Regions from separate parts of the Homo sapiens genome. Here all the other regions are linked to region 3. Evidence: fine-mapped expression QTL. A gene starts in region 3. Each other region holds a variant in brackets. All regions are shown on one strand. Distances are from middle to middle.

Region 1 (7,546 bases), 210 kb before region 3:
AAAGTTACTTCATGTGGCCCAGAAGGACACTGACCCTTGTCTGCTTTTCCGTGGCACCACTCCCAGCTCAAACACCAAGTTCAGCCATCTCGCTTTTGTTCACATCCTTGAATGTTCATGCTCTCTGTGGTCTGGCAACCTGCTTGTGGCCCTTTCTTTCCCTCTCCCCCAGTTTTTCTCCACTTGGTCTGGCCATACTCATGCTTCAGGCCCCTGTGGAAACATCACTTTTCTCAGATATGTTCCCTGACTTCCAAGTCTGGTTAGCTGGCCCTCGTCACAGCCCTTTTCATACTGCGCTCGGCTTACTGTTTATTTGCCTTTCTCCTCCCACTGGACTATAATCAGCCTAAAGTCAGGGACCCTAGCATCTGGGTCACTTCATTATTCTCAGGGCCTAGCATGGAGTCTGGCATATAATAGATGCTTAATAAATATTGAATACCTACTTAGATGAATAAAGGGAAGAATTGAATTGCTGGAAATAAATGAAGATCAACCAAATGAGAACAAGCAAAGACGATTGATTCAGAGCTTGCTATAGCAAGGGAGTTGGCCACCATCACTTGTGTTTTGACAGAGAATCCAAAGCAGGTAGAGGAGTGGGAAAGCTTTATAGTGGAAAAAAGGGAAAGGCTTCATGTATGCCCTGGTTGAGGCTGTTGGCCTCTAAATATTATTTTTTAATCTTTAAAAATAAGTGTCACTGGCCGGGCGTGGTGGCTCACGCCTGTAATTACAGCATGCTGGGAGGCTGAGGCTGGCAGATCACCTGAGGTCAAGACGTCGGGACCAGTCTGGCCAATATGGAGAAACCCCATTTCTACTAAAAATATAAAATTAGCCAGGCATGGTGGTGCATGCCTGTAATCCCAGCTACTCAGGAGGCTGAGGCAGAAGAATCGCTTGAACCCAGGAGGCAGAGGTTACGGTGAGCCAAGATCGCACCATTGCACTCCAGCCTGGGCAACATGAGTGAAACTCCATCTCAAAAATAAATAAATAAGTAAGTAAGTGTCACTTACCTGCACACCCAGCACTCTCTCTCGCACTAGGGAGAATATGTAAGGGAAGAGGTCCATATAGTATTATACAGTCAGAACTGCAGTTAGAACTTATAGTGATTAAATTCCCTTTTTTTTTTTTTTTTTTTGAGACAGAGTCTCGCTCTGTTGCCCAGGCTGGAGTGCAGCAATCTCGGCTTACTGCAACCTCCGCCTCCAGGGTTCTGCCTCAGCCTCCCGAGTAGCTGGGATTACAGGCACCTGCCACCACACTGGGCCTTTTTTTTTTTTTTTTTTTTGTATTTTTAGTAGAGATGGGATTTTACCTTCTTGGCCAGGCTGATCTTGAACTCCTGACCTCTTGATCTACAAGCCTCTGCCTCCCATAGTGCTGGAATTACAAGCATGAGCCACCATGCCTGGCCTTAAGTTCCTTTAAAGTGAAGTTATTGGCCGGGCACGGTGGTTCACACATGTAATCCCAGCACTTTGGGAGGCTGACGTGGGTGGATCACCTGAGGTCAGGAGTTTGAGACCAGCCTGGCCAACATGGTGAAACCCCATCTCTACTAAAAATACAAAAATTAGCCAGGTGTGGTGGTGGGTGCCTATAATTCCAGCTACTCAGGAGGCTGAGGCAGGAGAATCGCTTGAACGCGGGAAGCAGAGGTTGTGGTGAGCCCAGATCTTGCCACTGCACTCCAGCCTGGGTGATGGAGTGAGACTCCATCTCAAAAATAAATAAATAAGTAAAAATGAATTATTATTATTATTATGGAAGGGCTCCAAAAATCACGACAAATACAATTGATGGAAATCATGCCGGAGTGGTCATACTCCAATATGCAGGATATGAAGGATAATTTTATGTGTCAACTTGTCTAGGCTCTGGCACCCAATTGTTTGGTGAAACATCAGTCTAGATGTTGCCATAAAGGTATTTTTGGGTTATAATTAATGTTTAAATCAGTAGACTTTGAGTAAGCCTATTACCCTCTATAATGTGCATGGGTCTCATGCAGTCAGTTGAAGGCCTTAGAGAAAAGATAAGGTCTCCTAAGGAAGAAGGGATTCTGCCTCCAGACTGCCTTCAGACTCAAGACTGCAACATCACCCTTCACTGTTCTCCCATCCGCTGGCCTGCCCTGCAGATTTTGGACTTGCCAGCCCCAACAATCGCATGAGATGGTTCCTTAAGATCCCTATTAACTACCAGCAATTGCATGAGCCTGCCCCTTAAAATCCCTGTTGTCTATCTACTCATCCATTCATCTATCTACACATCCTGTTGGTTTTGTTTCTCTGAAAAACCCTAATACACTGGGCAAGGGCCAGATGTGCAGACAAAAATTCTCCCCACAACAGCACAAGTGAGTGTATGCAGGACTAACCTCTTTACCTCACTCCCACCTTTCCCTCTAGTCTTCTGCAACTCTAATTCCTCTTTATCAATTCAGACCTAGGATCATATAACACTTATTCACATTTTTTGTCAGAGGGATTATACTATAGCCGTTGATTTTCAGCCAGTGTTTGAGGTCATTAACGTTATAAGTATCTTGTTTTCAAGTTGAAGAAGGAAGGATTCTCTAACAAAGAATGTTCCATGAACAGGTGAAGGGATGTGTTTATCATAAAGCATCCTGAAGTATATCTGTGGTAAGCCTCCAGGGTGAGGGCAGAGCCAGGCTTTGTGAGGCCGAATGCTTACACAATTTAAAGGACCCTCTTTAGGAAAAAAGAATACACAAAAATAGTACATTTGCAAATTCTCAGTGATATGCGGATCATGCGAACACCTTGCTAAAGCCTCTCCCAGGGCCTTGGACAGGATGAGTAAGGTGAAGGGCCTTGAAGCTTAAACTTAATTAGTTCCGGTATATCTGGCTCTGCTTCAGGGCTTTTTGGGGTGGGGAGAGAAAGACAGGTGCTGGCCTCTCCCTGGGTTGGTTCTTCCTCCTCTGGGGAGGAAAGTTGGGGCTGGCCTGGTTCCAGCTGCTTGAGAGACACATTTGTTTTCCTCTAAGATCCAGAGTCTTCCCTCCCATCCAAGCCCTGCCAGTGTGAGTGGCCAGATTTTTGGCTCCTTCTTTATCCCTTTCCCTTCTCCCCTTCTCTAATATCAACCCCTTGTCCCAGAGTCTCCACGGCCTGTTTTCTGTGCTCTTGTGTACTGCTTCTTTAGAGTGCACCCAATTGTCTTGTCCCTTCTTTTCTTTTCTTTCTTCCTCCCTCCCTCCC[T/TCC]CCCCCCCTTCTTTCCTTCCTCTCTCTCTCTCTCTCATTTATTTATTTATTTATTTATTTATTTATTTATTTATTTATTTTTGAGTCAGGGTCTCACTCTTTCACCCAGGCTGGAGTGTACTGGCATGATTACGACTCACTGCAGCCTCTACCTCCCAAGCTCAAGTGATCCTCCCACCTCAGCCTCCTGAGTAGCTGGGACCACAGGTCTGTGCCACCACACCTGGCTATTTTTTTTTTTGTATGTTTTTAGAGACAGGGTTTTGCCATATTGTCCAGGCTGGTCTCAAACTCCTGACCTCAAGAGATCTGCCCACCTCTGCCTCCCAAAGTGCTGGGATTATAGGTGTGAGCCACTGCGCCTGGTCTACACCGATTCTTTAGAGTGCATCCAATGATATTTTCAAATAACAGTGTGCAGTCTGTCTTGTCTGCCATCCTGCAAACCTCTCTGTGCTTCTTGAAGCTTCTCATGGTCTGAGGAGAGCATTCCAGGCTGCACACGGGGTGTTGTAATTGCAGCAGCTTCATCATGGGGACTTTTCTCTATGGTTCTTTCTCCACATCTATGGCCAGCATCTCTTTTCTTTTTGCCTCTTCAGATTTCTAAATGCTGGGTGTGTCCATCTCACTTAAGCTGACTCATACTATTAGAAGCAATGGCTTCCTAACTGTACCCAGAGATATGTAATTTTATATAATTTGCTTTCATATATTTCACCAAATATGTGAATTTATTAGCATCCCATTCTGAGAGAAGACCAAAGATCTGAAAATATTCCTGCACATTCCAGGGGACTGACACCCTCAGATTCTCTCTCAGCTCTGAGTTCCTGTGTCTTCAGAAGCACTGAGATCACTTGCACCCCATTTCATGGCAATTCTTTCCCCCTCCTCCGTGTTCTTTTCCTGTCAATTGAGATATGGGCTCTTTCTCTGGCTTCCCTCAGAATCACTCACATGAGACGTGTACACATGTAATAGACTTTACTGAATGAGTTGGAACAATGGAGTTGTTTTGTATCACAGAAAAACACAAACAATTTAAAATCATATTTAAATCACCTTCATTTCTGACAAGCAGCTTTGGAATTCCTCCGTGGCCTCCTTTCTCCCTCTTCTTGATCCCCTGCTAAATTGATTGGAACCACACCCCCCTGCAACTGCCCAAGCTTCTCATTCCTTCCTCTCTCATAAGGCAGAAGTGGCCTCATTTAGTTTAGGTTTAAAACACAAAAAATGGCCGGGTGCGGTGGCTCATGCCTGTAATCCCAGCACTTTGGCAGGCTGAGGTGGGAGGATCGCCTGAGGTCAGGAGTTTGAGACCAGCCTGGCCAACGTGTTGAAACCCCGTCTCTACTAAAAATGCAAAAATTAGCTGGGCATGGTGGTGGGTGCCTGTAGTCCCAGCTACTCAGGAGGCTGAGGCAGGAGAATTGCTTGAACCTAGGAGACGGAGGTTGCAGTGAGCCGAGACCAAGTCACTGCACTCCAGCCTGGGTGACAGAGTGAGACTCCATCTCGAAAACAAACAAAAAACAAACATGAAAATTCCTCATACTGCCATACTGAGAGTGAATAAAAAACAGAGAAATTGAGAAAACAGAAGACTTCACCATTATGGAAAAACGGACCCCCTGTCTTTCACACATTGAGAGACTTCATTTGCAGGCATACCCGTGCATACCGTAGTCCTGCCCCATCTAAGAAATATGGTGTCTACGGGCGCTCTTTCCTCTCTGTCTACTTCCTCAATTCATTTCCTCCTCTTGGATCCTGAAAACTGCCAGAAAAAAGCAGCACTCCTGTTCTCATTTCATGTATGTGCTTGGCCAGAATAATGAGAGAGAAAAGAGACAGACCTGGAGAGAAGAGAATGATGGATGAGAAGTTACCCCAGGGGCTGGCAGGTTTATTTGGGAACGAGAAAGATGGCTCCCGAGATAGAAGCTAGCCTGTGAATTCTAAGGCATTTCCATGCTATGCGTGCTGTGGGCACCCTTGAAACTCTCATTACAAAAGGCATAGAACAAAGACAGTTTCTGTACCTAGACGCCTCCATCCAGCAGCACAGCCTCTGCCCTGAGCTTCTCAAGCTCTTCACCACTGGAATTGGTGAGGCACGGCTAGTACCTGGCCCCTGGTAACGCTGTCCAGGAGGAGCAGTGACGGTGCCAGAGGCTGCAGAGGCCATAGACAGCAGCCAGCACGGCAGCCCCCAAGCCCAGGTGCCAGGAGAAGAAGCGAGTGAGGAAGGCAAGGTCCATGGGGTTCTCCACCTGCAGGGCTGTCCGGAGGGAGGCGCAAACATCAGCACACACAGCTGCAGCATCCAGTTGCTGAGCCCCAGCCCCACCCAGGTCTTGAGCACCCAGAGCTGGGGCTGGTCAGGGACCCAGACCTTGATGGTGAGCACCAGGGAGACCAGGAAGGGGGGCACGCTGAAGAGCTCACGCACACGGATCTCCAGGGTGCCCTTGTTCTCAATGTGGGCTGCCATCAGTAGTGCCAGCACATAGGAGCCCAAGGCCTTGACTGCTTGCTCTAGCTTCATATTCTACCATTCCTGACACGACTGGCTTACAATGTCCACCACGCCAGTGAGCATAAAGAACTCGTACATGGTGATGTGCTGCCAGCTGTCCTTGAACACGAATGGCCACCGCGGATCCTCCCAGTCTACCACCATCAGCCGATTTACTCCAGACGGGTAGAATAACTTGGGTAAGATGCCAGCCAGGGTGATGACCACCTTCACCACACCTTCTAGTGGCACCAGCTACCACCACCTGTGTCCTCACTTCTCCCTGGAGGGCAGAGGGAGTTTGAGGAGCCTCTGTTCCTGTAGCAGGGCCAGAGACACCAGCACCATATAGTAGAGTGAGTAGAGAAGGAAGAACATTGCTGGCAGCAGGTGTCCCTCGAGGGTGCCCATGGCTTTAGTGTGTGTGTTGGGGCCAACGGGGCGAGAGCTGGTAGATGAGCAGCAACCTCACACACACATGACCGGCATCCTCACAGGCAGGAGTGGCTGCCTCTGAACCACGGAGAGATCATGCTGACGAGCCCCACCCCTGCCTCCCACACACAGAAAGGAATAGGTCTTGTTGCAGAAACCTGAGCCACACCCCAGGGTGGGACGCCTTTAAGAGGGTCCTCCAGGGTGGGACCGCTGCAGCCACCTTGCTCTGCTCCTTACTTAAATCGGCTAGGCCCAGCATTTCAATCTGTGCACCTCACTGCAGATGTCAGTTTCACAGATGCTGATTCAGCGTTTCTTTCACCAGCCCCTCTGCCACAGCGCCCTACCCCTGCAGAGAGGAAACAAAGAGAGTGAAGGAGCTCCAGCAAAGAGGAGTAGGGCTGACTCTCAGGCTGACTTTTCTCTCAGTGCTTGGCACAGTACATACTTTTCTCTCATTTAACAACTCTATGAGGGAGGTGTTATTAGGTGAAATTTTACAAGTGAAATGAAGGTCCAGAGCGGTGCAGAGACATGCACAAAGTGGTCCATCTGCCAGCTGGCACAGCAGAGCCAGGACGTGGACCCGGGTCTGCTCATCCAACAAAGCCTGAAGTTTATGCACAGCAAAACTACTGACATTCACTTCCAACCCCGTAATCATGACTGTGGGGAATTTACTTGGTCTTCTTGAGTCTCAGCTTCCTGATGTGTAGAATGGGAATAATAATTACTTCATAGATTTGTTATGAGAATTAAATGGGATTATATATAAAGTGTCTGATACATAGTGAATAATGATGGTGATTATGAATAATTTAGCTTTTTTTTTTTTTTTTTGAGATGGAGTCTGGCTCTGTCACCCAGGCTGGAGTGCAGTGGCACGATCTTGGCTCACTGCAAGCTCCGCTTCTTGGGTTCACACCATTCTCCTGCCTCAGCCTCCTGAGTAGCTGGGACTACAGACGCCCGCCACCGTGCCCAGCTAATTTTTGTATTTTTAGTAGAGACGGGGTTTCACCGTGTTAGCCAGGATGGTCTCGACCTCCTGACCTCTTGATCCCCCCACCTCGGCCTCCCAAAGTGTTGGGATTACAGGCGTGAGCCACTGCGCCCGGCCCTCCTATTGTTATTACTAGCAGTCCTTGCTAAATTTCTATGATCCTGAAGTTTTTAAAGTATTTCTTTGAATGATACCAAAGCAAGAGTCATAAAGAAAAACAGTAACATATTTAATTATATTAAAAATTGTAAGTTATTTATTAATAAAAATTAAACATGTACTGATTAAAATTACAGTTTAAAATTTTCAAAAGAAAAACAAAATAAAATTGTGCCC
Region 2 (7,546 bases), 76 kb before region 3:
GTTGGCCTGAAACACTGGGTGCCATTGCTGATCCGGTTCTCTGTGTGCACACGTGTGTGCATATGTGTGTGTGTGTGTGTGTGTGTAGGGTGTGGGAAGGTGGGGCTGTGGGTGAGAAGACACTGGGGAAGTGGACTCAGGGCTTTCTGGAGTGACTGTGTACCCCTTTCTTGCTTTGGAGCTGGAACCAGCCATAATAGATCAGACCCAAGCTCAGCTTCTTTTTTTTTTTGAGACAGAGTCTTGCTCTGTCGCCCAGGCTGGAGTGCAGCGGCGCCATCTCGGCTCACTGCAAGCTCCGCCTCCTGGGTTCAAGCAATTCTCTGGTCTCAGCCTCCTGAGTAGCTGGGATTACAGGCTCCCGCCACCACCCCTGGCTAATTTTTGTATTTTTAGTAGAGACGGGTTTTCACCATGTTGGCCAGACTGGTCTCAAACTCCTGACCTCAGGTGATCCGCCCGCCTCGGCCTCCCAAAGTGCTGGGATTACAGGTGTGAGCCACCTCGCCCGGCCCCAAGCTCAGCCTCTGTTTGGCCTCAGGAACCACCAACTCCTAGACCTCTCTCTGCCACCCGGGCCACTTGTAGGCCTCCATATCTTATGTCCAGCTGCCCTGAGTGGAAAGGAGGGAGTTCCACCCCAGGAAGTCCCGTGGACATCTCAACCCCAAGGTGCTTGGTCTTTTTCTCCAAACCTCTCCTTCTCCCTGGTGTCCCGAAGTCGGAAGCTTCAGACAACCCCCACTTCTTCCTTGCCCCACCCTTTCTGGTCTGCCTCAGAAGGTGCTCTGAAGGTGTCCTCTTGTCCCCACTCCCATGAACCCAGCCCCAGCAGGCCCCTCTTCGGCTCTTGCCAGGACTATTGCAGGAGCTGCTAGCTGCTCTTCCCACCCTCAGTCTCCCTTCCTGCCCATCCCTTCTCCAGACAGCTGCCAGTAACTTATTAAAAAGCCAAAATAAATAAAAGCGTATAGTGTCACTCTCCTTCTCAAAACGCTCCCCTGGCAGCTGCAGATAGAGTCTAGAGCCCTGGGGTGCCGCACCAGGGCCCCCGTTCTGTCCCATGTCCCTCCCACCACTCTCTCTGAGCCCTTCCCTTCCTCTCTGCTGGCTCTTTAGCCTGAAATAGCTTTTCCCTCTCCTTCACCTTGAGTGGATTTGGAATCCAATTTAGATATCATCTTCACTTCTGAAAACTTCTGCCTCCCCACACATACCTCCATGAGAATCGTTTTTAATCTTTTTACTCTCAAGGGTGTGTACAAACTTTAATTCCAGCCCTGAAACCACTACCCTTCAGCTCAGGGTCCCTTAATGAGTCCATCCTCGACGCCTGTGCCAGGCAGGGTCCTGTCATGCGTATGTCCTCTCTGGCCATCTCCATTTGACACAGTCCTGTCCAGCTTGAATCTAACCTCCCTGATGTTGACTCGTGTCTCCCTTCCTTTGGGATTTTCAGTCTGTGGCCACACTGGGCCCTGACTCTTTTGCCCTGTGCTGTCCACATTGTTTTCTACGTGCGGGTGTGGGGCCACCCCAGCTGGCCTGGGAGCTCCTGAGGGTGTCAGGGTGGAGTTCCTGCAGCCATGCCCCTGTGGAGCTCTGAGTGGTACTGGGCTCACAGCCAGGACTCAGCGACTTTGGGGACTGGGGCTGCAGGGCATTGAATTTAAGTCGGGAAGAGGGAGGAGGAGGGGACGGGAAGAAAGGAGCCCTTAGCAGGCGCTGAGTGAAGGCAGGTTGTAGGCCCCTGGGACTCCACTCTCAGGGCAGGACTGGGGGCCACAAGGCCTGCTCTCGCCTGGCAGCTGTGAGGAAACCTGCTCCCAGAGGTGATGCCAGAGGTGCGGGCCACCGGGGCAAGTGGTCTGGCGGCTGGCCAGGATCTGACTCTGACACTGGCCTGCTGAGTGCCCAGAAGAAAGAGGCTCAGAGGGAGAGCCAGAGCATGAGAGACATGGCAGGGACGCTGAGTGAGAGGGACAGAGAGAGACACGGCAACAGGGACAGAGACAGAGAAGAGGAGAGGGGGGCACAGAGACACATACGCTGAAAGAGAGACAGACAGATTCAGAGACAGACTGAGAGACAGAGTGACTTAGAGACACGCACAAAGAAACAGACTGATGGAAAGAAAGACAGGGTCCGAGAGAGACACACAGACCAGAAGACAAAAAGGAAGGCAGACAGAGAGGACAGAAAGGAGTGAGGCAGCGTGGGGAGAGAGAGGCAGGGACAGAAACACAGACACAGACAGACATGAGGGCACAGGGCAGCCCGAGAGAAGCCCATAAACACAGGCACGCACATGCGTGGAGGAGGCACGAAGCCACCTAAAGGTGGAGGGAGGGTGTCGGGGAGGAGAAGGCACAGGCCTGACGCTCAGGGCCTGGGGTTGGGTGGCGGGAGGCTGGGCCTGTCGGCTCCTCTCCTTGACGTGAGTCAGGGGTGGTGGGCAGGCTGATGGGGCAGGCCTGAAGTAGGGCTGCGTGGAAGGGCTCTGCGGGGTCAGGGGAAAGCCTGGGTCCAGCTGTGAACCCTCCAGGATCCAGGGCTGCCCCAACAGGAGCCCCAGGAGAGGGAGCTGGAACCAGAGAACAGCACGTGGCAAGAGGCCCCAGTTAAGCTTTGCAGCAGGATGGCCCAGTGGCTACTGGGTTCAGAACAGCTTCTTGGGAGCTGGGTGTCGTGGCACATGCCTGTAGTCCCAGCTGCTCAGGAGGCTGATCGCTTGAGCCCGGGAATTCACGACTAGCTTGGATAACATAGTGAGACCCTGTTCCTTAAAACAAAAAACAAACAAACAAAAAAACACAAAAAAAAACAGCTTCCTGGACATGGAACCTCTCACCTCAGCAAGGAGAGGAGCTGTGGAGGGAGCACAGGGCTGAGACCCTCAGAGTTCCTCCATGGGAACAGCGCACCTGCATCTGTGTCTAAGCCTCAGAGAGACTCCCCAGGCCCTTGGCAGTCCATTCCATTGTTCCACCGTCCAATACAGAGAGCCCACTGGAAGTCCTCCCTGCTGTCTCATTCTGATACCTCTTATTGCAAGTGCAGCCCACTCAACTCTTTAGGAGGTTAAAAAAAAAAAAGCAACAAAAACCCCTCCACCGAAATCTGAAATGCCACACAGTGCTCAGACAAAGACCCCTTTCTGCACAGCTTTACTCCCTCCTACACCTCTCTCCCCCTCCCCACCCCGCTTCCTTACTGCAGGCTAAATTGGCAGTGGGGAGGTTTTGAGTCAACAAATGCAGTGGGTTGGGGAAGGGAGCCCTGAAGGGGATTCCTGTCTGGGAAACATTTGCTGACAGCAGTTACTATGACAAGGAAGGCCTGCAGGAGAACCCAGCAGCCCCTGCCTCCTGCCTACTGCCCCTCCCAATTCTAGCTCTCCTTGCCCATCCCCCCTCCCAACCAGTTCATTCACTGACTCATCCATTCCATCATTTACTCAACTCAACAATCTTTAGACATTTACCATGCCTCCAGCACCCGCTTGGCATTTCATGTTTATTCTTCCACTCTGTCCTCACCACAACCCACAAAGTTATCTGTTGTTTTCCCTTTTGACAAAGTAGAAAGCTGAAACCCAGTATACTGAATTGACTTGCCCAGAGTGGTGCAGATGACAGGAGGCAGAGCTGGGATTTGCACCCAGGACTCTCTGCTTTCCAGATCAGTGTGGGGGTTTCTGAACTGCGTCAGGAAAGCAGGTGCCAGGTGATGAGTACTGTACAGGCTGAGACTTCGCCATCTTTGGCTCTGCATCACTAAAACTGTGCCCAGCACCCACACACAGTAGGCACTCAGTACACACTTGTGCCATACATTCAGCACACATGAACTCAGTATACACATGTGCTTTTTGATGGGAGGGCAAGAGTCAGCAAAAGTGGGACTCCTGAGAAGAGAGGGCCTTCCTGTTTGGAAGCAGCTGTACCTCGGTTCTGCAATCCAGGCACTCAAGGGCATTGATAAAGTGCCTACTGTGTGCCGGGCACTGTGTTAGGACCTCTGAATACAAAGATTTAAAACACAGATTTGTAGTTTGCCCTAAAGGAGGTCTTTGTTTAGTGGAGGAGGCAGACATATAAACAGATGGAGTTAGCAGTGCTACAGAAATAAGTACCAAGTGCCGTGGGGTTGCAGGTGGAGCAAGGACCTAAATCTGAAAAGCAAAACAAGAAAGCCTTTATAAGACAATGTAAAAAAAATCTCCGTGACCTCAGGGTAGGGAAAGATTTCTTAAACAACACACAAAAATAACACTAACCATAAAGAAAAAGATTGACAAATGTGGGTGCATTAAAATGAAGAAGCTGTGTTCTTCA[G/A]AAGACAACATGAAGAGAGTAAAAGGGAAGCCACAGAGCAGGAAAAGGTTTTGCAACACATGCAACTGACAAAGGGCTCAGCTCCAGAATGTGTAAAGAACTCCCACAAATGAGTATGAAGATTGGCAACTCAATGGAAAAACTGGATCAAATGCATAAATATGGAAAAATCCAAATGGCTATAAATATATGAGGTGTGTGACCTTATCAGGAATCAAAGAAATGCAAATTAAAATCCCAAGAAGATTCTACTACATACCCTCCAGATTAGCAAAAATGTAAAAGTCTGATAAAACGAAGGGCTGGTGAAGATCTGGACCAGGAGTTCTCAAATATCTCTTCAGAAGCAGCCGGTCAGCATCTAAGCAGTCAATTCAGACATGTGTACTCCAGAGGTGAATCGTGTACAAGAATGTTCGTGGCAGGCATTATTCATGAAGGCCCCAGACTGGAACCAGTGAATATCCAACAGCTGTAGATTGGATAAACTGAGTACAGAGAAACAGAATGAAGAGCACAGTTAATTCTGCCTGAGGGGCTGGGGTGTCTGGGAAGGTGGATCTTGGAGGAAGAATAGTTTCCCAGTCAAGGAAGCGGGAGAGAGGTTATCCCATCCAGAGGGTTCAGCAGATGGATGATCATGGGGTTAAGAGCAGTTCTAGCTTGTCCAGGAGGCAGCTGGATTAGGGGCTGGCAGGGAGAGAGGCAGGGAAGGTGAGCAGAGAGAGGTTGGATGTGTTGGAATGTGAAGGCCTCTGTGGGCCATCGAAGGAAATTTGGCTTAAATACAAAAGTGAGAGATAGTCAGAAGCAAGGAGCAACTAGAGGTTATTGCAAAAGATGATGCAGCAGGAAAGAAACATAGCAGTGTGGCGGAAGAGAGAGGGTGCATTTGGGAACCATGTCTGAGACAGAATACATAGGATGTTGTGTGGGGTGTTGGGAGGGGTCAGGACGGAGCTGAGGCAACTCCCAGGTCTCTGGCTGGCCGGCTGGGTGGAAGGTGATGCTCTAACTCAACATCCAGAGACTGCGGAGGTGGAGGTTTGAGGCAAGAGCTAAGAGGACTAGTTGGGGACATGCTGCTTTGGTGGTGCCTAGGGATACACAGGTGAACATCCAAGTTCACCAGGATGTGGAGCTTGGACATGAGCCACAGATATCAGAATTACTAGAGCAAGAAGCCATGGGTTTAGATGAGAATATCAGGGGTGCAGGAGCAGGGCAAGACAAGAATTGGAGCTCTAGGAACCACAACATAGAGGCAGTGGACAGAGGAGAAGCAGGGGAGAGAGAGGGAAGGGATGATGGAAAATAAGAGAAGGTCCAGAAGAGAGGGTGGTGCTGCAGCAGCTAAGGGAGGAGCAAGTTGCACCAGGGCTGGGTGGTCTGTGAGTGAAAACTAGGTCTTGGGAAGAGGTGGGGTTGGGTCTGTGGTTAGCAAAGAAGAGGAGGAGAGGGTAGTTGAGGGAGTTCTGAGAATCTCTATTTTCTCTGTCAATTACACATGACGGAGGGGACAGGCCGGAAGCCTGAAAGGGTGGTAAGTTTCAGAACAGGAGCTGATCACCAGCAGCCCAGGAGCTGAAGGGCCAGGCTGAAGTCAGGGACCATAAATCTGGAGTGGCACTAGTTTGCACGGTTGAGTGGTTTTCCTATGCCTTCTAGTAGCCTGGGAATTGCAATGGACAAAGCAGATGACTGGAGTCCTCCAGGGCTGGGAAAGGCAGGGTGAGGGGGTGTGGGAATCAAGGGTGTCGGGAAAATGAATGATGTGGCCAATCACAGGCAGGTCAAGAGAGGAGAAAGTAGAGCCAGGAAGGAGCAGATGCGCTGGCGGAAGGCCTTGTCCAAAGCCGGCACTGCAGCACCGGTGCTCGAACGAGTGAGACAGAACGGGAGAATTGGAGAATCTCTGCGAGTGGAGACCAGGTTTTATGGAAAGGAAGGAAAAAGTTGTGGCCCAAGATGGGGGTGCTGGAGTTTAAGATTTCACAGGAGACGTTTCAGGTGATATGTGGGTGGCAGAAATGGAGAGAAGGTCGTTGGGGAAGGGGAGATAGGAGAGCCAAGGGTGAGGGTGTTGGGAAGTCCATGTGGACATTCAGGTCCCCCAGACTGACAGCAGGAGGTGGGAGACAGAAGAAGACCCTGAGCCAGGCGCCCAAGTCCTCAAAAGACGTTGAGTGACCTCTGGGTGGATGGGTGATCCCAGCCAGGTTGGGTGAGGGGTGTGTGGCTGGATGGTGGGAACCTGGAGGTCTGGTTTTGAGTGGGAGAGGAAGAGTCATGGACTGGGTGGCAGAGAGAGGTGGAAGAATGCTGACTGTCCGGCCTGGCCAGGTGCCACCTCCAGCAAGCTCGTCTGATCACTCTCTTCTTGACCTTCATTGTTCTTTGAGTCTGAAAGACTCCATTTAACCCTTGAGTATCCACAGCCCCAATATTTGCTTCTCTCCTCCAGAGATCACTGGGCAGAATTCCCATGGGTGGATTGTGGCTTCTGTGTATTGTGGCCCCAGTGTATTCTGAGAAATGGGCCATGGACACAGGACAAAGAGGCCTTGACCGCAGCTTGGGTTAGTGAAAGTGTGGGCTGCTCTGGGCCAAGCCACACCATCTACTTTGGGCCCAGCAGGCTGGGCTCCTCCACCCCTACCCCATCTCCCTGGGACATGTGGAGCTTTTCTACCCTTCATTTTGCACATGGAAAATTAAGCCAATAAAAGCCTCAAGAATATTAAGGCATGGGCTGAGGCCTGATGGCATCTGGAACCCCGTCTGCAATACCTGATTCCCTTCACCTGCTATCAAAATCTTGCTCAGCCTTCAAGGCCCAATCAAGGGAGCCTCACCTTCTTTCTGATCTTCCCTTCTCCACGTCAATTACTTTGCTGGCTAGATTCTTGGTCCTTCCATTTGGCATTTGTTTTCACCCATCTTAAAGTTGGTTGCTAAGAGTCTGTGTTTTCTATAAGACTTCTTTTTTTTTTTTTTTTTTTTTTTTTTTTGAGACTGAGTCTTGCTCTGTCACCCAGGCTGGAGTGCAGTGGCATGATCTCGGCTCACTGCAACCTCCGCCACCCAGGTTCAAGCGATTCTCCTGCCTCAGCCTCTCGACTAGCTGGGACTACAGGCGTGGGCCACCACATCCAGCTAATTTTTGTATTTTTAGTAGAGACAGGGCTTCACCATATTAGCCAGGATGG
Region 3 (7,262 bases):
GTTACTTGGACACAACTGGAAGAAAAAATTGATAAGAGAAAAGAAAGCAGCTCTTCTGTTTATGGCAGTTGCAGGGGAAGTTTCACCATCCGCCCACCCTGCCCCCGACCCTCACCCACTCTCTGGTTTGGGAATCACTTCTCTAAATTCCCTATTATTCTAAGTACCCTTTCTACAGGATTTACCCTCACGCAGAAGGTGGTGGGCATTGAAGAAGCCAGAGCTCCTTACAGATGACTCTCCACGGATAACATGAAGGGGAGGGATACCTCACAAGTCTCCTGTAAATGGGAGGTGGCAGGTGGAAAGCAGCAGGCAGAAACATGGAAGGGGGAACTGGGCTTCCTGGTGCCAGAGGAGAAATCTTGAAGTGGAACTTCTTGGTAGTAGTAGATTTAGGTACCCTTCATCCACACTACATAATATTCCAGAGGTGTTACATTATTTGATCTCTGAGGGCTTTGGTAGAGGAGGGAACCCTGTAGAGGTTGAAAAGGAGACAGAAAGGGCCAAAAAGTTGACAGTCAACATCTTTGTGCACTGTTAACAATCTGGTCTGGAAAGACAGCACTGGCAAAGGTAGAGTATTTCCCAGATCTGCCATGTATCAAGTCTGCTCACATTACTGAGGAGTAGCTGTGATCTGAAATCATTATTTTTATTTCTTATTTTTTTCTGAGACGGGGTCTTGCTCTGTCTCCCAAGCTGGAGTGCAGTGGTATGATCTCGGCTCACTGCAACCTCCGTCTCCTAGATTCAAGAGATTCTTGTGCCTTGGCCTCCCAAGTAGCTGGGATTACAGGTGTGTGCCACCACGCCTGGTTAATTTTTGTAATTTTAGTAGAAACAGGGTTTCACCATGTTGGCCAGGCTGGTCTTGAACTCCTGACTCCGGTGATCAGTCCGCCTCGGCCTCCCAAAGTGCTGGGATTACAGCAAACCTCACTCAATCATCCCAGCTGGGTTAAGTATCCCTTTGTAGACTTCAACTCATTGCACTGCTAATTTCTTGTTTATTTACTTACTCTTCAATTCTGAAAAAAAGTAGGACCTTTATCTTGTTTAGTATTCTATCCCCAAGTGCCCACACAGTGCATCACAGAAAACAAGATGCTCCACAAATGTTTAATTTATTAAGTGTGCCAGGGTATACTGCTAACTCATTGCATTTTAATTTTTCTCTAGATACTCAAATAGCTAAGCAAATGAAGGTACATGCCAGTCTTTCTTCTTTTATACACAACAGACAAAAGTGTTGGGGGGCTAGACACCAACCAGCTATTTTTTTCCCCTGGAACCAGATCATCATACTGCTGAGTTCCTTCAAACCATCAAAGTACAGCCTTCCTTCCAATGTTGCATAATCTGTTCAAAATCACAGTATAAATACAAAGTTCTTCCATCCATTTTACAAAACCAGCAAAACTCTACAATAAAATCCTACAGGAAAAAGTAGACCAATCTCATTTACAAACAGCATTTTAACAGTAATTATTAAATGTTACAAAACATAAGATACAAAATCTAAATCCTTAAAGTCACACGATTTCTACAGAAATAAGACCCTCGCCCCACCCATATTACTTATGACTCAGGACAGTAGTTCGTCCTCACGGGGACCCACTGGCCAACTTTTCACCAACCCTCACCAGAGGTGGATGCCGGCCCTAGCACTGGCCCTGGCCCTCATACTGGCTTCAGCTCTGGCCTTGGCTCTGGCCCTGTCGGCCTCGTCTGCTAGGGCCTCACGGTACTGCACTGGCCAGTGCTGCGGTTCCTTCTTATGCAGTTTGGCCACGAACCCCAGGACTTCCATCTTGCTGATTTCCAGGTTGCTTCGGGGACCCCAAGAGAATTCATATTCTGGTGGATTGGTGTGAGGCACCCGCCTGTAACTGAGATATCGCTGCTGCACAAAATCTTCCATAATAAGCCTCTTCGGATACCCAAAGAGGAAATGATACTTTGAGGGTTGCACCCCCAACCGACGCAGCATCTCCCAGACCTGGGCCTCCCTGGCGCTATTACCTCTCATATAGATAAGGCCCAGGATCATCATTAACAGACCCAATCTGGGGCCATCTCCTCCCAGATCCTCCTCCTCCTCCTCCTCCAGAGGTTTTAGTTTGTTGATCAGGATGTAAGTGTGGTGCTTGCGGTCAAACTGTTTCAGCTCAAAACCAAAGACATACCGCAGATGCTCTGCGGCCCTTGCGATGATGTCCGGGAACAGAATCTTCAAGTCTCCAATAACGTATTTCACCATCTCCGAGCGTGTGATGGGACTCTTCTTCTTGTCTTTCACCAGGAGGAACTGCACCAACTCCGCCACCGTCCGATTCAGCCGGCGGTAGGCCCTGCGCCTTGCCAAGGCTTTGGCCGCCAAGGCCCTCGCGCCTTTCCGGGTGAGGGCGGGCTCCGCAGCCCCCTCCTCCCTCCCGGCGCCAAGCTCCTCCTTGGGGCGCTCCTGCGAGGCGGTCGGGGCCCGGGTCTCACCATCATGGCCGCCATCCTTCTCCCCCTCGGCCTGCGGGACCGGGAGCCCCCTGCTCTCTGGTGTCTGCAACATGTTTTCGGGCAGGCAGGTGCAGAGCGCGTACACGGGCCGAGGGGTGTGGGAGCCGCCGCGCAAGCCCCGGGGGAGGGGTTGGACAGCGGCAGTGACGGCGGGAGTACAAGGAGCAATGGCAGCGGGAGCTTTGTGGCTGCTGGGCCGCACCGCACGGGAGTCAAACCTGCGGCCGCAACGCCGCCAGCAGCCGGAACCTGCGGCGCGCAGCCTCAGTCCGCGCCCGCGCGAGGGGCCACTTCCGGCCACCTCAGCCAGGACGGCGACCCTAGTGCCGCGCGCAGCCCCTCCTTTTCCGGTCCCTTCTGGGTTGGGGGTGTGCCCAGGCTGCTATAAGTGGAAATGCCCTGGAGGGTGGGGACGGGGGTGCGCCCTGTGACGGATTTTAGGCTTGAAAAGTCGGGGGCGGGGGAATGTAACCAGGACTCTCCCATCCAAGGCATGCAGACTGGGGAATGTTTCGGTGTACAAGAGATGAAATAGGGATGGAGTGCCCCCCACGTTCTTTCTGCAAGTGCCTATTTGTGAGTGTGTGTATCTGGGATTTTCAGTGCTTTACCGGGGCTCTTGTGCAGAGTGCACGGTGAAGGCTGCGAGGTAAGACTGTGCGAACCAATTAGTAAAGGATGCTAGGGAGACTGAAATTTATTCTGGACGTAAAGAGAAAATACTGCAGCGGGATTTAAGCAAGTGAGTGTCCAGACCAGATCTGTGTCTTCGGTTCTGGCGGTATTGTGGAAGATAGATTGGAGTTCGGCCGGCTAAAAGCTAGAATCCAGTTTGGAGGATTATTATAGTGCAAACTAGGAACTGGGACCCGGCCTATTTACTGGGTTGTATCCTCGGTGCCTAGAGCAGTGCCTGACACGGAGAGGAACTCAATAAATATTCAATGGATCATTATGATGAGGGAGTAAGGACAGCAGATTCCATGGGGATAAGAGGAAAATACTGAGAAGTACAGCAGGAATAGGGACTGGTTGGAAGAAAGGGGAAGTTTGTTCTTTTTTTTTTTTTTTTTTGCGCAAGTCAAATTTGACTACTCCCATGTATTTCTTTTCTTTTTCTCTTTTTACACACTCTGAGCTTTCTTCTGCTTCTTGCTCCTTCCTTCCTTCTTTCCTTCCCTCCTTCCTTCCTTCCTCCCTCCCTTCCCTCCTTCCCTTCCTGCCTTCCTTCCTTCCTTCTTTCCTTCCTTCCTTCCTTCCTTCTTTCCTTCCTTCCTTCCTTCCTTCTTCCCTCCCTCCCTCCCTTCCTTCCCTGTCAGAAATGCCCTCTCTATCACCTCCATTTCTCCAAATCCTGTCCACTATTCAGGGCCCAGTTTAAACATCACCTTCCCAAGCCTTCCTTAGTCACCACGCATAGAAGTTATTTACTGTCATCTCTGAATCACCTTAGCAATTGTTAACATCCACATATATAGGCTTTATTAGGTGCCAGGCTCCGTTCTAATCACTTTTCAAATATTAATTCATCAGATTCTCACTAATGTAGGTACTAATACCATCATCCCCATTTTATAGATGATTGTATCTTTTCTGTGACACAGTTTGCTACTTACTAGCTATGTAATCTTGGGCAAGTTACCTAAACTTCTGCCCTTCTGTTACCTTATCAGTAAAATGAGTATAATAGTAGTAACAGCATTGTGGAGATTATGTGAAGTAATGCACATAAGCATTTAACACAGTGCTTGGCACATATTGATATTCAATACATGTTAGCTGTTAATTAATGCATATTTTTATATGCAATATACAATATTAGAATTGCAAGATGAACTGTCCTGGAATGCCTAGCACTCTGTGGAGATGCGGAGGAGGTGTCCTGGGACATAGCACTGAACCGGGTCAGTACTCACCCATTCTGTGACCTTGTACAGGATGCTCAAACACCCTGGGCCACTTTTTTCTGATACTGTAGCCCTGCTAGGTAAGTGGTATTAGCCCCATTTTCCAGGTGAGGTTACACACAAGGAGGTTAAGTAACTTGCCCAACATCACACAGCTGGGATGTGAACCCATATAGTATGACTCCAGAGACTGTGCTCTTAACCACTACATTCATAGATGTTAATTATTATTATTATCATTTACTATATTTTGTATTATAATTTGTTGTGCTTATCTTATTACCCTCCCCAAACCAAACATCCTAAAAGCTAGGGCTATGTTTTTAACTCTTTTGAAGAGCTTCTCTTAGTCAATACTCGATATATAATTGCCAATGAATAAATGACAGAAGGCTTTACTTTTTTCCCTAGGAAATAACAGTTACTTATTTTAAGTAAATATCTGATAGACTTTTCTAAATCTAAATATGAAATCTTCCTTTTAAAAACTTTTGAAAATTTATACCCACTTGTATCATATGACTTACAAACCTGGAAGTATGTGAATGAAGCAGGAGAGGATGTTTATTATAGCCTAGCTTGAGGCTATTATTAGTTTTCATTGTGCCAAACATTCTATGTACAATATAATTTTGTCCTCACAAATCCCTATTAAGAAGGTATTATTATCCACATTTACAAATGGGAAAACAGTCACAGAGAGGTTAAATCACCTGCCCTGAACCACCCATCTGTTAAGTGCTAGACAAGAAATGAAAACCCAGATCTGTAAACTCTGAAGCAAGACTGCCTGGTTATCTGTTTTTCCTGAAGGTAGAGAGAGCCACCCATACCTAAAAGGACAGTGCTAGAGATAAAATAGTCCACTTACATATTTTCCTCACTACAAGGATTGCCAGGGAGATATGCAGGAGATACATGCACGGAAAGGAGCATGCAGAAGATATATTAAATGAAAAGAATTTTGAGGGACAAATCTGTGGTAATAGGGCTGGATTTTAAGAACTGAATAAATGACGATACTACTCATAAGAAGGAACAAACTACTGACACAATGTGAATGAGTCTGGCAGATATGTTGAGTGACAGATGAAAGATACAAAAGATTATACGTATAATATGATTCCATTTATCTGATGTTCGAGGCAGGATAAGCTAATCTATGGTGATAGAAATTAGGACAGTGGAGGCCTGGGGTGGTGTTGACTGGAAAGGGGTATCCAGGAACTTTCAGTGGTGATGGCAACGTTCTGTGTCTTGATTTGGATGTAGGTATACATTTGTCAAAACTTGTGAAACTGTACGCTTAATAGCTATGCATTTCTTTTCTTTTCTTTTCTTTTCTTTGCGACAGGGTCTCACTCTGTTACCCAGGCTGGAGTGGTGCAATGGCACAATCTCAGCTCACTGCAACCCCTGCCACTGCAACCCTTGCCTCCAGGTTCAAGTGCTTCTCTTGCCTCAGCCTTCCAAGTAGCTGGGATTACAGGCACCTGCCACCACACCTGGCTGATTTTTGTATTTTTAACAGAGACGGGGTTTCACCATGTTGGCCAAGCTGGTCTCAAACTCCTGACCTCAAGTGATCTGCCTGCCTCAGCCTCCCAAAATGCTGGGATTACAGGTGTAAGCCACCATGCCCAGCCAGGTATGCATTTCATAGTGTATGAATCATACCTCAAAATTTATAAAAATAAAAAAGGATTTTAAAAAATGAACAGCCCTTTAGGTATGGGAGGAGGCGAGGAGTAAGAAAGGTGAATGGACTCTGCATTACCACTTGCCGATCGCTAGATGTTACCATGTTACAGTGGAAGGAATGCAAACAATAATTTTTCCCATTTTTTTTTTTGTTATGTCCACCATGTAACCGGACACACAGAATTTTTTTTTTTTTTTTTTTTTTTTTTTGAGACGAAGTCTCACTCTGTCGCCCAGGCTGGAGTGCAGTGGCGCATCTCGGCTCACTGCAAGCTCCGTCTCCCACGTTCACGCCATTCTCCTGCCTCAGCCTCCCGAGTAGCTGGGACTACAGGCGTCTGCCACCATGCAGCTAATTTTTTGTATTTTTTTTTTTAGTAGAGATGGGGTTTCACCGTGTTAGCCAGGATGGTCACGATCTCCTGACCTCGTGATCCGCCTGCCTCGGCCTCCCAAAGTGCTGGGATTACCGGCATGAGCCACCATTTCCGGCAACAGGCAGACTTTTAACACATTCCTTACCTAAACTTTTAAAAGGGACAAAAGATATATGCCTTTGGTTTGGGAGATGACGAAACATATGCTTTAATGACTATTGGGTTGGAATCTTCTTGAGAGAGGATCCTTCTTAGCCTAGACTAGAGTCTTCAAAAGCCCACAGTGCTTCGTAAAGTTTCATACGTGGAAGAGAGAAGGATGTTCCACTGGAAAAGCAGAATTGCAGCTGAGCTGTCCTGAAATGCCCAGCACTCTGTGGAGACGCGGAGGAGGTTTCCTGGGACAAAGTGCTGAACCAGGTCAGTACTCGCCCATTCTGTGACCTTGCACAGGGTGCTGAACCTCTCTGAGCCACCTTTTCCTCATCTTTAGGCCCCAACAACCCTTGCTTTGCCCATCCTTACAGAGTTATTTTGAAGTTCAATCAAGATTATACATGTAAATATGCGTTTAAAGTGCTCCACCATTAAGAAATAAATATAAAATGTTACAGACCCTTTTCTAAAAGAGATATGGTGGAAAAATCCCAGTAATGAGGGTGACTGGCCTCTTAGACAGACATTTCGGAATAGCTTACACATTCCTCATTGAAAAAACTGTCTGGCCAAAAAAGATTAAATAAAGAAATGTCAAGTACTG
Region 4 (7,546 bases), 36 kb before region 3:
TGGAAGTGGGGTGAGAAAGGACTAAGCTTTCACAAGACATGGAGAAGCAGCCAGCAGCATGGGAAACAGGGCCTCAGCTGTGCTGCATCTGTGCTCTGAGCTTTGCACTTTCTACATGTGTCTCTACTCAAGTTACGCCTCTCCTGGCTTCAGACCCCTCAAGCATAGAAGAGTTTGTTAGGTCCACAGCTCTCAACCCCGGCTGCACACTGGGGTCACCAGAGGAACTTTTAGGAACTACTGATTCAGTTGGGTTCCAGGCACTGCCATTTCTTCCCCTCAGGCCCTCAAGCAATTCTAGCATGCAGCAATCGGTTTGAGTAGCCCCAAGGTCTCTGACCTCATGGCTTATCAGGTCTTCTTTGAAAAGTCCTGGCTGCTTAGGAAACACCTCCAGGAAGCCATCAGTTTGCAGACTGTGGGTCCCAAGAAGTTCCTGTACCAGGAGTTCTTCCTAAAGAAACCCACCTGGACTGGAGCAGGAAGGGACCCCAGAGCCCACCTTTTCCAACTTGGTTTTAGAGATGGCAAAACTGGGGAGTGCTCCTCCTCTCCTTGGGAGGACCCCCAGCTCAGACGGGAAGTGCTTTGTGAACGTAAAGCACCAACGCTGGGAAATTACTACAGATGGAGTTGTTGAGGATGGAGATTGGGGCACTGGAATTGTAACTCCTATCTGTCTCCCCAACTAGATTGTAAGCACCTTAATTGCAGAGACCAGGTCTCCTTTGTCGTGTGTGTGTGTGTGTGTGTGTGTGTGTGTGTGTGTGTGTCCTCCTGACTTAGCAATAAATGACTATGTGGATGGATGGATGGATGGATGGGTGGGTGGGTGGATGGATGGGTGGGTGGATGGATGGATGGATGGATGGGTGGATGGATGGATGGGTGGATGGATGGATGGGTGGATGGATGGATGGGTGGATGGATGGATGGGTGGATGGGGCCTTCCACAGGTGAATTTCCCTTCCTTACTTATCACTAGATTTTGCCATGGGTCACCTAGGCTGTCATCACCACGGTCACTGCTGTGAATAATGGAGTGTCAGGAGCTGAGGGAGGCAGTAGGGTATTGAGAGAACCTGTTAGCCTTGGGACTCAGGGGAGGGCCATTAATAAGGAGTAAGCATCTGAAGCTGGTCCTGACAGGCTTGCTGTGAATGGTGAGGCCAGATTACATGCCCATTGTACCCTGCTGTGAATCCACATCTCCCTAAGCCCCATCACACAGTGTAGCCGGGAATTTCTCACCCTCAAAGGTCTTTCAACCAAAAAAAAAAAAGGCCATTTCTGCCCAAGGAAGAATGTGGACCTGCAGGTTCCAGGTGGGAAGGAGAGGGGCTCAGGGTCTGGGTGAGGACAGAAGTTGGTGCTCTGACCTTAGTATGAATAACTCCAGCAAAGTCTTAATTCCTCAAAATACTGCCCAACATGCAACCGGCCACCTTTTATTGAACTTCCACGTGGGCAGACACTATGCTTGCTGAGGATACAGAGGTAAAAGAGAAAGACCCTGCCCTCAGAGGACTTATGGTCAAGGAGTAGAAGCTGTCGGGGAAAGGGCAGAGGGCTGGTGAGCCACGGAGGAGAAAGTGCTGGACAGGGCATGGACCCCAGGGGTGGCTTCATAGAGAGGCAAGATTTAAGCTCGGTGGGAGTTCTTCAGTGTGGCTCCCGGGAATCTGAATTTCTATCTCTCTCTTTTTTTTTTTTTTTTTTAGATAGAGTTTTGCTCTGTCGCCCAGGCTGGAGTGCAGTGGTGCAATCTCAGCTCACTGCAACTTCCGCCTCCTGGGTTCAAGCAATTCTTCTGCCTCAGTCTCCTGAGTAGCTGGGATTACAGGCGCGCGACAGCATGCCCAGCTAATTTTTGTATTTTCAGTAGAGGCGGGGTTTCTTTTATTTATTTATTTATTTTTTGAGACAGAGTCTCACTCTGTCACCCAGGCTGGAGTGCAGTGGTACAATCTCAGCTCACTGCAACCTCTGACCCCTGGGTTCAAGCGATTCTCCTGTCTCAGCCTCCCAAGTAGCTGGGATTACAGGCATGCACCATCATGCCCAGCTAATTTTTGTATTTTCAGTAGAGACGGGGTTTCCCCATGTTGGCCAGGCTGGTCTTGAACTCCTGACCTCAGGTAATCCACTCACCTCAGCCTCCCAAAATACTGGGATTACAGGCGTGAGCCACCGTGCCTGGCCAAATCTGAATTTCTTCTCAAATGCATGGGGGAATCTGTTGTGCCGACATGGTTAGGAATGATTTGTCTAGTGAGTGGTGGAGAAGGCATCCTAGGCAGAAGAAACTGTATGTGCAAAGAAAGGGAGGTGATCTAAGGGCACAGAGGTAACGGCAAACAGTCAAATATATGTGTAGAAACCAGGTTATTTGGGGGAAAGGGGATGCAACTAGAGTGGGAGGAAGAAAATCAAAATGCCATTTTGTTTGAATCGTTGAAAATAATTCCCCCAGGAAGCAGTAATCCATTTCAGCCTTCCTCATTCAGTGCTGATTTGCCCAAGTGGCAGGGAGATCTGGTGCCGATTACCAGGTTTCGGTGCATTAGGTAATGCAACAATAAAATCTGGGTCACTGCAGCACAAAGTCCCCTTTATTTTGACAAGTGTAGTTTTTACTCTGAAGTGTTATCATAAATAATTAAATTAAACCAGTAAATGGGTTGTAGTATGCTTTGCTGCAGTAACAAAGTCTCTGTAACCCCAGACACTGAGCCACTCCTTTGGGGGATTCTTGGCTCGGAAACATTTGGGAATTTTTCAGAAGTCAAGAATATTTGGAGTAGTCAAAGGAGAGAGGTAGGGCTGAAGGCTTGTTCCAGCCCATCCTGCTGCCCCGTTTCCCACTGGGCTTCCCCATCCTGCTGCACGCCATTCTATCATTTGACCTGTGGCAGCTTGAATCTGTAAAGGGATCACTCCTCAGCCCTAGGCTGGCCTCGAATGAAGAAGGGTAGAGAGTCCCAGTGCACATATTGGGCAGCCTCTTTTTTTTTTTTTTTTTTTGAGACAGAGTTTCGCTCTTGTTGCCCGGGCTGAAGTGCAGTGGTGCAATCTCAGCTCACTGCAACCTCCACCTCCCGGGTTCAAGCGATTCTCCTGCCTCAGCCTCCTGAGTAGCTGGGATTACAGGCATGTGCCACCATGCCCAGCTAATTTTGCATTTTTAGTAGACACGGGTTTTCTCCATGTTGGTCAGGCTGGTATTGGGCAGCCT[C/CTT]TTTTTTTTTTTTTCCATAATGCCCGCTCAGGCATCAGGGCATCAATAAGTAAATACTTCAAATCTTAGGGTAGAAGGTCTTGCAGGGACTCTCAAGACCACCAGACAACCCACCACCATCCATGACTTTTACCATTTCATAGACATGAAAACCAGGGAAGTAAAGTGACATGACCCATTGCTTGTTGGCCGATGGACAGGATAAGTAACATGCAGAACGTGAGTGCCAAAGACGCGGAGACCCAAAGGAGAATGTGCTGGAGACACAGGGGCTGCATGCAGGCAGAGAAAGGGGAAGTTGCAGGAGGAAGGAAAGAGGAAACGGTAAGAGGCAGGGGTGAGGTCTGCTAGAGGGCTGGGAGCTTTGAACCAAGTCTTCAGGCGGAGACCCTGAGGAGTCATCACCGGAGCCCTCAAGTACTCAGACATCTGCCCGCTGCATCAGGACAGTTCTCAAACCAAGCAAGAGAGAAATAAAATCTCTGTAGTGAAGAAGGAAAAATGGTGCTGGAGAGAATACCCAGAGGCGGAACCTGCTGGCTTTAAAGCAGGAGATTTCGGTCCCTCCCCAGGGTGAGTGGGGCTGCTTTTTGCCTCCTTCTCTACCATCTGCCCCCTCCGCTCTCCCATCGTCCTGCCTGCTGGACATCCAGGCATCAGCTTCTGTCACCCTTGTCAGGGCCTGCAGATAAGGTGGCAGTTGGTGGCCAGATTAGAGGGGGAGTAGCATTCCACTGCCCCCTCTTTTGGTGGCATCCAGGCCTGTAGGACTCCATGCAGGGACAACTCCATTCGTAGAGCCAGAACTCCCAGTGAGAGTTCTAGAATGGGGGCTCCTTCCGAGTCCCAGAGCCTCCAGCTGAGCCAGCTCCAGGGAGAGCGTGACAAACAGGTATCCTGGACAGAGAGGACTCTGGAGACCAGAAGAGCCTGTCAGAATGAGGGGCCGAACAGCACACACGGCCTTCCCTCCTGCCCCTCCACAGACCGGCTGTTTTTCATAGCACCTTTAGTGGAAAGGAAAGCATGTTTCTCTCACTCCATGGAACTCTGAGCTATGTAAACAATAGAGATAGAGCTGGAACAAAAATCACCTACAGGGCCGATAGCTGCACCAGAAATCCCTCCAGGGAGGAGGCCAAGGCTCCTTGGTGTTCAACAGCACAAAAGCTCAGATATTAGTGAAGTGTCGGTGCCCGGGGCTTTTGCCCCAGGGCTGTGGGGTCTTGTTTAGAGGTCAGTGAAGGGGAAGGCCCACACCTGGTGGGCTGCACGGCACCCCCTCCTTCTCCCTGACATCTATTGCATCATTCTCAAGGTGTGTGGACCAGGGACAGGGGAAGTGAGCTCAGCTGACCCAGAAACCCCGGCAAGGCCTGTGCCCAGTTTGCTGTTCCTCACCGGAGACCTTTGGGGTTCTAGGCCACTCTTACGTGGTGATGGCAGGGCAGGTGTGCACAGGTCTGCCTATGAGGTGGGGATCTGCAACTGTCCCCAGAAACCCACTGCTAAACTGGGTCCTTAGGGACTTCACCGCCCTGCTGGCCTCCTCCTCCCTCTGAGGCATCATTGACTCCAGGAAGCCCTCTGTGAACCCCAAGGCTGCACCCTGGGGTGCCAAGCTTCTCTGTGTGCCTGCACTGCACCCTGTCATACTCAGAGCTTATCATCTCAAGCGTATCTCCTTAAGACAGGGCTGTGTTTGACTTATCTCTGTGCACACTTCCATATACAGTAGGTGCTCAATAAACGCTTGTTGGACAGAACGGGGCATCTCTAGGCCAGGCCTGGCATCCCTGGTCAGGACGGCTTCAGTGGGAGGCCCAGTTCTCTGGCCTCAGCTGCCCTTGGCTCAGGGGGTCCAGTTCGGGAGAGACCAGGGTGGTCAGAGCGTGCACTGCCCTTTAATCCAGGCCTGGGTTCTTTCCCGCGTCACGGCCAGATCCCATCTCCTCTTCAACACATAGCGCTGTGGCTACCACATTGCCTCTCTGGCAGACACTGTGGGGATGTGTGTAGTCAGGTTGCAGGGAGGGGGACTTTAAACAAACAGTCCATGGCCCCAGTCAGTGCCAAGGCTCACCGCATCCCCAGCCCCACACCCCCTCTCCAGGGCGAGCCAGCTTGCTGGACCGTGTGACCGGGAGCCCGCAGAATTCATTTCACAAAAAATGTTTTGGTGCTCTGCTTCTCACCCCATCCCCAGCTGGGCCAGAGAGCACCTGAGTGCCCCTCCTGCTCTCCCTCCCTCTTGGGCCTTTCGCCCCCTAATCCACAAAGTGGGGAGCGGTCATGTGGGCCCTCAGCTCTCGACAGGAAGCTGTCAGGCACAGCTGGCTCGCCGGGCCAGCTCCCTTACCGCCAGGGAGGCGGGCTGCCGTCCCCGAGCCCGGCTCGCTGAAACCCAACCCCTCTTTCCAGCTGCAGCTCGAAAGAGCCCCTGGCCAGCCTTCCCCAGGGACCCTGCAGCCTGCAGATCTCACGGTCAGGGAATTTTCCCTGCGCAGTGTTCCAAGTCAGCCAAGCCTCCAGAACAAAGGGCAGAGAGACAGAGACCGGCCTCTTCCTATCCCCCCATAAGTGGCAAGAAAGACCCAGCCCACAGAGGCTGCTCCCCTGATGTGGGGGAAGGGTATACCCAGAGGACAAAGACCATCCTTCCTGGGAGGCCTGTGCCTCGGGAAGCACTCCCCGGAGGAGCCAGGACCAGATAGATTTGCAGCAGCCCCCATTTCTTCCACCCCAGGGAGGAAAGTGACCTGTACTGGCCCTGACATCCCAAGGGCCACGGGTGTCAGGAGGCCTGTGTCAGAGTCAGGTGCTGCACAGAAGGGGATTGTTGCTGATTAGTGCGGAGGCACACATTCCAGAACGCAGTGATTCCTTTCCCTGGGGAAAATGCAATTTACAAAAGAAAAATGGGCCGGGCGCAGTGGCTCACACCTGTAATCCCAGCACTCTGGAAGGCGGATCACAAGGTCAGGAGATCGAGACCATCCTGGCTAACACAGTGAAACCCCATCTCTACTAAAAAATACAAAAAATTAGCCGGGCGTGGTGGCGGGCCCCTGTAGTCCCAGCTACTCGGGAGGCTGAGGCAGGAGAATGACGTGAATCCGGGAGACAGAGCTTGCAGTGAGCCGAGATGATCGCGCCACTGCACTCCAGCCTGGGCGACAGAGCGAGACTCCGTCTCAAAAAAAAAAAAAAAAAAAAAAAAAAATGGGACTTTTTTGTTGTGGTCCCTAAGAACAGACTGTTCCTCAAACTCAGATAATAAACTGCTGTCAAGCAGCAGCCCTGGTAACATGTAATAGAGTGGAGAGAAACCCGCAACCAGCATTGGTTCAAGCTCTGATATCATCACTAACTAGCTATGTGGCTGGTCTAGCTCTAGGGACACCCCAAAGCCATTGTGGCCAGGACAGAATATATTATAACTAACTTCTCTGAGCCTCATTTTTTCTCATCTGTAAGATGGGACTAGTATTGTTTACCAGGCCTACTTCCTTCATTTAGCAAACATTAAGTACCAACTGTGTGCCAGGCACTAAGTCTGTTGCTGGAAGCTGAGAAATAACAGGATTCCCCACCCCAGGTCACATTAACTAATGGGTATAAAGGTGCTTGGAAAACTGAAATGCTGAAATAAATAGATAAGGACCAGCTGTAATGATCTCATTAACTTTCTGGGAATGAGGCTGCTAAAGTGATTTTTAAAGTTCTTAAAAACAGTTAAGTAAGCCAGACCTGTCTCTGTAATCTGGCCTGCACTATTTATTTGCTTAGCAAACCATTTCTTCATAGATAGTGCAAAAGGAAAGACTTCAGACCAGCCCGAGGCAGAATTTATCCCAAATTCAGAGTGAGTGGGGTCTGAATTAATTAGGTCTTTCTGTAGCTTAATGTATAAACCTGGGCTCAGGAAATTTGGCCTTTAAAGCAGGTGCCCTTTCAAATGAGTGGGTTTCATGTGACTGTTTTAACTTCAGCTTCATTACCCTTTATGGGCTGCAGGAGTGGTGGGGGGAGCAGGCAGGAGGGATCTGGTGTGAGTCTGCTTCCGTGAATGGGGAGCCAAAGGAACCGTAAAACAGCCCCTGGGTCCTCAACAGCCTTCTCCCAACCAGGGCCTGCCAAGGTGACCTGCCTACCTCCCCATGGAGGTAAATTCATACTTACAGTCCCCGTCTGGGGTCTCCTCCAGTCTCAGGTGAGGGCAAGGGCCAAGGCTCCCAGTCCTACTTGTGGGGCTGGTCATCTGCTGGGGTTTCCTCCTTCGATCTCTCATTGTCCTTGAACTTCTTGTTC

Direction of the effects. Alleles are on the strand shown, and positions count from the first base shown. SD is a standard deviation of normalised expression in the study named. Not every link is listed here.
For the expression in skeletal muscle of the gene that starts at base 2,812 in region 3, allele TCC in region 1 goes with a higher level than allele T (large effect, 1.5 SD a copy in FUSION).

The links. PIP is the estimated chance that this variant, and not a neighbour inherited with it, causes the effect. A credible set is the group of variants that fine-mapping cannot tell apart.
Region 1: its variant is the best candidate, but not a certain one, in a credible set for the expression of MAGEF1 in skeletal muscle (FUSION, PIP 0.59).
Region 2: its variant is the best candidate, but not a certain one, in a credible set for the expression of MAGEF1 in whole blood (TOPMed, PIP 0.87).
Region 4: its variant is the best candidate, but not a certain one, in a credible set for the expression of MAGEF1 in whole blood (INTERVAL, PIP 0.52).

Annotation. Positions count from the first base shown.
Region 1 is chr3:184,494,191-184,501,736 of GRCh38, forward strand. The region is part of intron 2 of LINC01839 (long intergenic non-protein coding RNA 1839); the gene reads left to right. It also overlaps the pseudogene TEDDM3P. Among named protein-coding and RNA genes, the nearest start is that of LINC01839, 22 kb to the left of the region's middle. The variant T/TCC (reference allele first, on the strand shown) is at 3,246.
Region 2 is chr3:184,633,563-184,641,108 of GRCh38, forward strand. No RefSeq gene overlaps it. Among named protein-coding and RNA genes, the nearest start is that of MAGEF1, 75 kb to the right of the region's middle. The variant G/A (reference allele first, on the strand shown) is at 4,338.
Region 3 is chr3:184,709,253-184,716,514 of GRCh38, forward strand. It overlaps MAGEF1 (MAGE family member F1), which reads right to left and starts at 2,812. Exons shown (of 1, transcript NM_022149.5): 1 at 1,112-2,812. The coding sequence starts at 2,569. The coding sequence ends at 1,646. LOC107986163 (a long non-coding RNA gene) reads left to right here and starts at 2,991. Exons shown (of 5, transcript NR_160768.1): 1 at 2,991-3,166; 2 at 5,779-6,922. RefSeq lists an enhancer at 2,012-2,071.
Region 4 is chr3:184,673,588-184,681,133 of GRCh38, forward strand. No RefSeq gene overlaps it. Among named protein-coding and RNA genes, the nearest start is that of MAGEF1, 35 kb to the right of the region's middle. RefSeq lists enhancers at 4,561-5,065, 5,066-5,571. The variant C/CTT (reference allele first, on the strand shown) is at 3,236.